2 separate regions of the Homo sapiens genome follow, and region 1 is linked to region 2. Evidence: fine-mapped expression QTL. A gene starts in region 2. The other region holds a variant in brackets. All regions are shown on one strand. Distances are between the middles of the regions. Region 1 overlaps PLA2G6 (phospholipase A2 group VI). Region 2 holds the start of PLA2G6 (phospholipase A2 group VI).

The links.
Region 1: its variant is fine-mapped to the expression of PLA2G6 in tibial nerve (GTEx, PIP 0.91).

The regions. Positions count from the first base shown.
Region 1 is chr22:38,124,254-38,129,585 of GRCh38, forward strand. It overlaps PLA2G6 (phospholipase A2 group VI), which reads right to left. Exons shown (of 17, transcript NM_003560.4): 8 at 5,201-5,309; 9 at 4,016-4,177; 10 at 2,118-2,196. Among named protein-coding and RNA genes, the nearest start is that of BAIAP2L2, 16 kb to the left of the region's middle. The variant A/G (reference allele first, on the strand shown) is at 2,627.
Region 2 is chr22:38,178,563-38,183,932 of GRCh38, forward strand. It overlaps PLA2G6 (phospholipase A2 group VI), which reads right to left and starts at 3,268. Exons shown (of 17, transcript NM_003560.4): 1 at 3,102-3,268. RefSeq lists enhancers at 1,671-1,840, 2,121-2,190, 2,821-3,270, 3,220-3,514, 3,431-3,540.

The DNA.
Region 1 (5,332 bases), 54 kb before region 2:
GAGTAGCTGGGACTACAGGCAGGAGCCACTGCGCCTACTCTCTGTGCATATTTTTGAGTGACGGAGGGAGTGTAGCTCAGAGGTTAGGTGACGGGAACCAAGTCATATGGATGCGGACTGGACCTGGACCCAGGTCTGCCGCCTCCTGAGTCACATGCTCTCCAGCGCGCCCTGACACGTCTCCCCACATCCTGCCTGTCCTCATTGGCCATGCCCTGGGGGAATGCCTTTGTGGTTGGTTCAGTCTGGAACCTTCCTCTGATCTTCTCATCTTCCCATCTCAGCTTGATGAAGCTGAGAGAAGCCTGCCCTGATGCCATCGAGACCCTCCCTCACAGCCCGCCTGCTGCTCCACCTGCTTCCTGGTGGAGGCTGCTTCCATTCCATTCGCAATCTTTCTTTTACTCTCTCCTGCGCTGACCTGGAAGCTCCACCAGGGCAGAAGCCGCCTCTGCTCTGGGCAGCGCTGTGTGTCAAGGGGATGCAGGAGGTGCCCAAGAGGGCTGATAAATGGAGGAGGCCCGGGTCCCACCTCTAGGGGTCTTTTCCTGGACCAGGTACCCAGCCCCACAGCAAGCCTAGAGGTGGCAGGGGAGAGACTACACTGTTGCTGGAGGCCAAAGCAAACTCCCGAAGATGCGGGGCTGGCGACAGAGATCAACCCAGAGGGCGCAGGGCTCTGTAGCTTGGAAGGCCCAAGTGGGGAGCTACCGAGGGGTCTCCTGACTCTTGCCTCAGCCCCGCTCCAGGCAGGGTTCTGAGGCTCCAGAATCTGGGGAATCTGCTTTTCCTCCCTTGGGAAATGTGGGTCCCCCCTTCAGGTGCAGCTGCCTCACCTCAGCCCCTGCACAGGTGTGTGTATGTACATGCATGTGTGTACATGTGTGTGCATGTGTGTGGGTGTCCATGTGCATGCATGCATGTGTATGTGTGCGCATGTGTATGTGTGTGCATGCACGTGTGTTTGCATGTGTGCATGTGTGTGCGTGTCCATGTGTTTGCATGTGGGCAACACATGCATGTGGGCAACCCGCAGGCATGTGCATGTGGGTGTGTGTGCGTGCATGTGTGCGTGTGTGTGTGCGTGTGCCCGCGTGCAAGAGCATGCAGGGGGCACAGGGGAGGGAATGCTGATGGGGCAGGGGAACCTCCAGGGCACACAACAGGGTAGCATGGAAGTGAGTGCGAAGTGAGAGGACCCACAGAGCTGCACGATCACTGCCTGGCCCTGGGAGTGGAGCTGCCTCTGATTCTGAGAAGAGAGCTTTCCCTGCAGAGGGCTGGCACTAGGTATAGAGTCCACAGAGAACCCAGAGAGAGCCTGCGGTAGCACAAAGGACGTGGGTTCGGAAGACCCGGCTGTGAGTTGCCACCCTGACACTCACTCCGTGTGACCTTGAGCAAGTCACTTCACCTCTCAGGGGCTCAGGTTCTGCATCTGTAAAACAAGGTTACAAATTCCTCCCTGGGAAGGCTATTAGGAACATGAGAGACTAATAAAGAATAAATGAATCAACTGCAGCAATCAAGGGAGGTGGCGACAGCACAGTGGCTGGAAACGCATTTGTCCTGGTACCTTGCCGTGCCAGCTGGCACTGAGTTCAAGCACCCGGGATTATGCCTGAAGGGCAAGGCCTGGGCGTCTTCTCTTTGCATCCTGTCACCCAGGCCCGCCTCTTACAATGGGACTAGGTATACAGCAGGTGCTGGGGAAGGCAGCCCACGCCACTATTCTGCAGTGGGAGGTGGTTAAGGAAGCCAGTAGGAGCAGTGGGAAGCAGCTGCTGAGATCTCCCCAGGGGGGACCCAGGCATCTCCCCCTCTTCTAGCCATAAGGAGATCAGGGAGGGAGGCCAGAACACTGCGCCAGCCCCACCAAGTCCAAGAAGCCTGGCACCCTGGGCTGGTCTCCAGAGCCTGCACCGCCCAGCATTAATGAACGAGCGACACAGGCTCTCCATGTTCTGTCTCTGCTGAGAACTATAAGACTAGGAGCAGAGCCACTTCGCCGGCTGTGAGGGTGCAGAGAGTAAAGCCCTGAGCCCACAACAGGGGGTGGGTGAGGGGCAGGAAAGCGCACACGTTCCCCGCTCTGCCCCCGATCTCGATCCACTTACGTCCGCTTCTCGTCCCTCATGGAGCCCAGGATGAACGCTGGCTTCCGGGCCCGTGAGATGTGCATGAGATCCTGTAGTTCTGTGAGGCACAGAGCAGGGCATGCTGTGGTCAGGTGGGTCCCCAAGCCCTGCTACCCCAGAGGTCCCTAGATCAAACCTGGGCTGTGCCTCGCCCACGGCCACGCCCTCATCCCCCCACTCCCCCTGTCATCTGTCCCTTCCCCACAGGAAGGACTCTGTCCCAGGAGAAAGCTGAGCCACAGGCCACAGGAGAGAAATGGGCTGGAGTGGAAAGGGGGGCCCACTGCTCTGGGAAGGGCTCCCCACCCTGCCCAGCCAGCTCCCAGGTTCCCCTCAATCTCTTCCTCTTGAAACCCCAAGGCATGAATACCCTTGCGTGTCCTCTTCAGACAAAGTGCTTCTTCTTGCATCGGAGCCGATGCTGCAATAACCACCTGGGGCCTAAGAATTCTTATTCCCTATTGACAGGTGAGGCTCTAAGAGGGTCC[A/G]TAATTCACCCAAGGTCATTTAGTCAAAAGGCTGAGTCAGGACGTTCCTCGGGGTTTAAGTCCATGGATGAAAGGAGACATCCCTCGTCCTGATCCCAGGTCTGGAAATCCCAGTGGCCTCCGGGATCAGGCCCACCATCCACTCTGTCCATGTCTTCCTTTGTGTCCAAGGCCTGCCTGACGTCCACCCAACTGACTAGCTGCCCCTCCTGACAAGCAGCCCAGTCCCCAGGTGCCTGGTGCAGCAGCCCGCGTGACCCCAACTCTGACAGCCCCCCACCACTGTGCAGAGTCTAGAAGCAGCAAAGCAGAACCGAGGGCTGCGAAGCGGTGTCTCCCCCTCCCCAGGGCACACGGCTCCACAGTGAACAAGGGAAGCAGAAGAGTGGCTGAGAGAGGCCGGGGACAGGGTGCAGGGGAGGGGGCGTGTGGTGTGTGCGCAGCTAAGAAGGACGGATTAGGGAGTGAGAGCTAGAGCTAATGCCGCATGGCTAGGCTCGGTGGCCTCTCCAGGCCCAGGGCGTTACCCATCTGACGCCGCACCCCAGGCCCACCATCCGGCCTGGCTTGGGTGACTGCCTGCAAAATTGAGAGATAAAGATGGGAGGTGGAGGGGGAGTTCCTGGGAGGGGAGAGAGAGGTGGAGCCAGGACTAGAAGCCACAGTCACGGTGCCTCTCCAGAGTTCCAGGCTTGGTCGGGCTACCCTGGCTGAAGGTGCTGCCGCCTCCACAGTGAAGTCTGGCTCACCAAGGACTGGCTCCTGGCTGCCCTCTGTTCAGGGGACCCCGCTCCCAAACAATGGAGGTCCCTGAGTGGGCCAGCCCACAGAAAGTCCAGAGAAGGGTCCTGTCTAGTCTGGGGATGTCTCCCTGGGCACCAAGGAATGCACCGGGGCAGATGCTGGCTGCCTGGCCACATTCAACGTCTGAAAGTCACCACGGGGCCAGGAAGGGGGCACACAGGTCTCAGGCCCAACCGAGATTCAAACAGTGTGATAGAGGTGAAGCCAGAGGGACAGGTGAAGCCAGAGGGCCCGGGCCCCCAGTCCCCCGACAGCACTCCTCACTGCCCACCCTGAACGCCCTGGGGACAGGAGGGCAGTAACAGCAGCCACCTCATGGGTGCCACTGGAAATGCCCAGGCCTGAGACTGTGTGCAGGACACATCCTCTCAGGGGCAACGGAGCATGGGACATCAGCCAGGGACACCCTAGGCCTCTGGGATCTGTGGGTTGCTGGCTGCCTAGAGGCTGACAACTCCGGCCCCATCCTCCCCGGCTTCCTTTAGTGACTTCCGTCCTAGGGATCCTGTTGCTTTGGTGGGGCCTGCTGTGATCCAGGGGCCTGGGAACCAGCTGGAGAAGAGGGAGTCGGGAGGCGAGGCCTACCTAGGTTGTTTAGGCTGATCGGTGGGGGCTGAGCTCTTTCCAGGGAGAAGGGATGATGTGGCGCTGCAGAGCCCTGCTCCGCGGGGACCCCGTGGATGGGTGGGAAGCAGTATTCGGCCCCCACGGTTCTCAGCAGAGTCAAGATCGCCTTCCTGGTGACAACTTGTCATGGTTTGGGGAAGGGGAGATGGCACAGGATCAGAAATGATGTCAACATGCAAAGGAGAGGCCCCTCCTTTCCACACTCCGTCCCCTGTCCCAGCTCCCAGGCCCTGGGCACGTGGGCTGCTCCAGAGGCCTCAGCCCACCCTGACAGGGAGTGCTGCCCCCAGGCTGGTACATCCCAAGCAGCTTCCTAAGGCCAGGGAAGGAGGATATGGGAGGAGGAGGTCAGTGTCACCCTGCCCGATGCCTGTGGGAACCCCTTCTTTCCTTCTACTCCAGCCAAGAAAGCAGGAATCCCATGGCCACATTCAGTGATTCTCAAAAATGCTAAGTGATAGTTCAGGGTTCCAAAGGGACTAATGAGCCAGCCAGGGGGCACCTACTCCATTTGATGGATGGGATTGCTGAAAAGGAGGTCATAGATGCGGTGCATGCAGACACACACGTGTGCACTGGCACACACACACTGCTGCCATCAGGTACCTGCCCACAGTGACCCCCACAGCTGCTGAAACCCTCCAGAGCGGGCTCCAGGCCTCTGGTGAGGAGGATCTGCTCTGTCCAGCTCTGAAGCTAAGGCTCACTGTGCGAGCGTGCAGCACATGGCCATGCACTCTGCCCACACAGGCATGCCCAGAGCTCGTGCAGTGTAGTGCATGCACCCTTGGTCATTCTAGCCAGTGGTTCCATCAGTGAATTCCCCAACGGTGGGGAAAGAAGGCTGCTGCTGGCTCTCCTGTCCCCACCCCTGCTGGGAATCTTAGCTCCCTGAGGTGGGGGGCGCTGCACGGGAGAGGATGCTGGTATAGCAAGCCCCGTGGTGGGCCTGCATCTACTGCTCAGGGCCCTTGTGCTTGGGTAAGGAAGCCCCCTCTCTGAGTACGAGGTGCTCCTGGCAGCTCTGAGCAGGGCGGGTCAGCACAGGATGCTGGCACCTGATGCCTGGGACTTCCCTCCTCCTCGGTCCCTGTATCCACCCAACCCTCACCCCACTCCAGCCCCAGAGTGCAGAGCACATACGTCTGCCGATTTTGGAGGCTAGGAATGTAGGAGTCTCCCCAAAGTCATTCGGGGTGTCCACTTCTGCTCCGAACACGATGAGGGCCTTGATCATCTCCACGTTGTCTTTCTGTTGGAGATGGAGAGAGGATA
Region 2 (5,370 bases):
CCTGTCTTAAAACAAAACAAGGCCGGGCGCGGTGGCTCACACCAGTAATCCCAGAACTTTGGGAGGCCGAGGCGGGTGGATCACTTGAGGTCAAGAGTTCAAGACCGGCCTGGCCAACATAGTGAAACCCCATCTCTACCAAAAAATACAAAAATTAGCTGGGTGTGGTGGCGTGCACCTGTAATTCCAGCTTCCTGGGAGACTGAGGTGGGAGAATCACTCAAACCCAGGAGGCGGAGGCTGCAGTGAGCTGAGATCGCACCACTGCGCTCCAGCCTGGGCAACAGAGTGAGACCCTGTCTCAAAACCAAAACAACCAACCAACCAAAAAAAACCCCACAAAATCCCTGACATCCTGGAACTTATATTTTAGACAGAGCTACTAATAATAAAGAAGATAAACAGGTAAATATTTACAAAGGTTTTAGATGACAATTAACTACTGAGGAGAAAAACCAGAGAATGGGGATAGGAAGTGCTGAGGTGGAGAGTGAAATTTTAGATTGGGTGAGGAGAGAAGTCTTCACCAAGAAATTGATCTTAAATAAATACCTGATGGAGAGAGATGAAAGTCATATGAATAGCTAGGCAAAGAGAGCGTGTGCAAAGGCCATGGGGCTGGAACATGTTTAGCGAGTTCCAGGAAAAGCAAGGAAGCCAGTGACATCAGAGAGGCAACAGGGGGCCAGGCATGTGCCATGAGAGGAGAGGCCACTGCAAAGAAACAACATTTTAACAAGATCACTCTGGCTGGGTGTGGGGTAAGAAACAGAGAGGCATCATAGATAATCTCACAGCTTTGACCTGAGCAACTGAATGAACAATACTCCTATGTCCTAAGATGAGAAAGAGAGTGGGAGGGACATGTTTTGGTGAAGAGTGGGGTCAGGGATGGAGGGCAGAACTAACAGGAGCTCAATTCTAAACTCTTAAGTTTGAGGCCTGGCGCGGTGGCTCACACCTGTAATCCCACCACTTTGGGAGGCCAAGGCAGGTGGATCACTTGAGATCAGGAGTTCGAGACCAGCCTGGCCAACACGGTGAAACCCCGCCTCTACAAAAATACAAAAATTAGTTGGGCATGATGGCGCATGCTTGTAATCCCAGCTACTTGGGAGGCTGAGGCAGGAGAATCAGGAGGTGGAGGTTGCAGTGAGCCGAGATCGTGCCATTGCATTCCAGCCTGGGTGACAGAGTGAGACTCTGTCTCAAAAAATAAATAAATCAATAAATAAATACTTCAAGTTTGAAAAGCCTAAGTTTGAGGTGCTGAGTAAGCAACTAGATTTGAGTATGTCATTCCAGGGAAAGGTCTGGACTGGACTGGGGATATAAATTTGTGGGCTGACAGAATAGAGACGGCACTTAAAGAAATAAGACTGGATGAGATCACCATCCGAAAACGAGAAGAGGCATTTAAGACATGACCCTATCAAAATCCACTGTGAAAGACACAGAACATATTCTCCCAGGGAGCCACCCTCTACAAAGTGAAGTTTGTAACACACTCTTCACTACGGCCCCTTACTCCTTGCCTACCTACTTCCCCCAGCACACACACCCAATAGATGTCTGCAGACACACACACACACACACACACACACACACACACACACACACAGAGTATTTAAATTTCTCCTTTCTGTATCTCTTAGTGATGTCATTCTGCTGAGTAAGAGGGAAACTCCCTTTTGGGGAGTCTCTCATGTAACAAGAAAGTAATCCACGGAAGGAACAAGAAGTGTCCTAAACAGTAGCAAACCTTACACATCAGGACAATCACACAGGCTCTGGTGTCAGATTCCAGCTTCAACCTCATCGGTGTGACCTCAAGCAACTCATGCGCCCTCTTTTTCTCATGTGAAGTGAGAATATCATTGGCCACACCAAGGGTAGCCTAGAACATCAGACAGTCCGTAAATATTTGTTAGATAAACGATGACTGAATGAATGGTGAAGAGAACATATACAGAAGAGCCTGACTCACAAGAGGTGATGAACAAACACTGCCAAATGATACACTGAAAGACAAGGGACCTCCTGCTCATCCTTCTCTCCTTGTCTTCTCATTCTAGCCCTTTCCCTTTCCACTCCTTTCAATTCTGCCTATGACCCAACAGTAAAATCATGTATTTGTACAGGGCCATACTGGTTATAAAGCTTTACCTTCTACATTTTCTCATTCAAATTTTGAACCTCATGGCAGACTTACGAGGGCAGGAGGTACAGTTCCCCTGTCACAGATGAGGAAACTGAGACTTGGACAGAAAACAGGTTCCAAACTCCAGGCAGAAACTCTAACAAAAACAATGCATTCAAAAACAATGCATTCAGCCCAAGGGTGCAGCCTCAACGTTGCCAAACCGAACCTGCCTGACATCCTGTTGGGCGGGTAAGAGGCAGGTGAGGGAAAGACCCAGAAGCTAGGGGGAGGTATTCGTTGGGGTCATGTGGGTAGCCCATTAAAAATACGGCCACAGGTCCCCTTGCCCTGTGCCCTCCCTGTCCCACACCCACAGGCTTGCCCCGACCCAGTCCCATGATCACCCTGGTCACATGCTCCCTGTCACCAGCTTCCAAGTCATCTGTGGGAGCAGGAGGTGGACACAGGATTAGGGGTGGGAGACTCTGGGGTGGCCAGGCTGAGGGGAAGGAGGGAGCATGTCGGGGGCAGGTCTGGAGGCACGCGAGAGAGGAAAGGCAAGGAAAAAAAGCAGGGAGGAAAGGCAGGAGAAGCAGGGAGTGAGAAATGAGTAGAGGCACCACGAAAGGTGGAGACGGACGTGAAGTGGGGAATCAAGTGAGCACTTAGAGGAGCACAGGAAGGAAAATTAGGACGGCCAATGGGGCCTAAAGAGGCACTGAGGGTCGGGGAAAGAGAAGAGATGGATTGACTCGGGAAGTTAGGGATACTGAGGGAGACACACGGAGGAGACTGGGGTTCAGGGGAGAAACTCAGGGTCGAAGCTGGGGTCCCTGGGGTCCACAAGTTCGAGATGAGACACGGGCGGTCTCGGGATGGGAATTGGGGACGCAGGGGGATGAAAAGATGGAAGGTGGGGGCACTCAGGGAGTCACATAAGGGTTAATGGAGGACATGCCTCAGAATCGGAGACACGAGGAATATCCAAAGGAGGGTCCGGCGGAGACTTGGGAGTCCGGAGCGCCGAGGAAGTTGGGGAACGGACCCCCAGGCCCCGCCCACCCGCGAGGTCACTCACCTCGGCTTACTCAGCACTTCTACTTCCTCCTACTTCCGCAAACAAACGGGCCTCGGGCCACGTGATGGCCTGACCACCGCTCTCCGCCAATCACTGGTGGCCCTGTCCCAGGCCTCCTCTAGGCTCCGCCCCCGCGCCCGAGGACGGCGGGAGGCGGGGTCCGCCATTTTTTTTAACTGCCCAATGGAAGGGGCTCCCTTAGCCAGGAGGACGAGCTTTCGGCGGGAGCCAATCCTCGGCGGCGAGGCGCGGCCATGTTTGTGCGGGGCAGAAGGTGCCCGGCTTCTTGGCAGTCCTGTTGATGAGGGCCAGGAGTCCTACCCTAGTCCGCCTTCCGCCTCCTAAAGCGACCAGAGCCTGGAGTCTGAAGTTACTGTTAATGATTGCTCGTAAAGATAAAAATAAAGGCAACAGAGGCATAGGGCATAACAAGGAGGAACCTGTTTTGATTTTTGCCAGGTAGCCTCAAGCCAGGGTTGCCAGATGTAGCATATAAAAAATACGGGATGTTAAGTTACATTTGAATTTCAGCTAAACAGCCAATACATTTTTTTCCGATAGAACAGAAATTGATTATAGCTTTTTTATTTTTCACAACTAAGGCCAAATTCCCTAGGGGAATTACCACATGTCCTTTTTTTTTTTTTTTTTGAGACAAGTCTCGCTCTGTCGACCATGCTGGAGTGCAGTGGCACGATCTCGCTCACTGCAACCTCCGCCTCCCGGATTCAAGCGATTCTCCTGCGTCAGCCTCCCGCGTAGCTGAGATTGCAGGCGCCCGCCACTACGCCCAGCTAATTTTTTGTATTTTTAGTAGAGACGGGGTTTCACCATGTTGGCCAGGCTGGTCTCGAACTCCTGACCTCAAGTGATCTGCCCGCCTCAGCCTCCCGAAGTGCTGGGATTACAGGCGTGAGCCACCACGCCCGGCTCCGAAATTTTTAACATAAGTATAATATACTAAGTTTAGTATTGTGTTAAAAATGTGTGCATTGTTGTCTGGCAACACACCCTGAGCCAGTCTCAGGAAATACCTTAGCACTTTCAGTAGGAACTTGGGCAAATGATCTCTGTGAACCTCAGACCCATCATCCAGGAAGTGGGCACAGTAATACAAGATTGTTGTAATATCTAGAAGTAAATTGGTCCCCATTCGTGCACATAGTGGGATTTCAATAAATGGCAGTTGTTAGGGTTAATAATGCCGATAATGAGGTATTTTGCAGAGAAGCCAGGAGACTAGACTTTAGTCACACATCTGCTTCGGACTGAGCAGGTCATGTCCTCTCTTCAGCCCACTGGCTTGGTTGGACCTTTTCTTTCCCTAATAATCACCCAACCCTAGGTCTAGATGAATCTGCCAGACTGCTCTCCATTTACGTGGGAAGTATAGTTGCGGGTGTCATTCTTGTGAAAAGAAGCGTGTAGGCCGGGTGCGGTGGCTCACGCCTATAATCCCAGCAGTTTGGGAGGCTGAGGCGGGTGGATCACTTGAGGTCAGGAGTTTGAGACCAGCCTGACCAACATGGTGAAACCCCATCTCTACTAAAAATACAAATAATTAGCTGGGTGTGCTGGCCATAGTCTGTAGTCCCAGCTGCTCAGGAGGCTGAGGCAGGAGAATTGCTTGAACCCAGGAGGCAGAGGTTGCAGTGAGCCAAGATCATGCCACTGTACTCCAGCCTGGGTGACAGAGCCAGACTCTGTCTCAAAAAAAAAAAAAGTGTGTTTCCTCCTTAGTCCGTCTAAAGATATTAGTGCCTAGACAGGGCAGCCAATGCAACTTGCGCAAGGTTTAGTTAAGAATCTTCACAGGTTAATGAAATTAACCATCTTAACTAATATCTGTACAGAGCTTTACCAGTTACAAAGTGACTTCACTTCCATCATATCCTCGTGTCCCCATTTTACAGGTGAGGAAATTGTTCCTTAAAGTAAGATTTAAAATTTGCTTAAGAGTTTCAGCTTGACTGCGCACAGTGGCTCACGCCTGTAATCCCAACACTTTGGGAGGCCGAGGTGGGCAGATCACTTGAGCTCAGGAGTTCAAGACCAGCTTGTGCAACATGGAGAAACCTCGTCTTTAAAAAAAATACAAAAATTATCCAGGTGTGGTCTTGCATGCCTTTGGTCCCAGCTACTGTGCAGG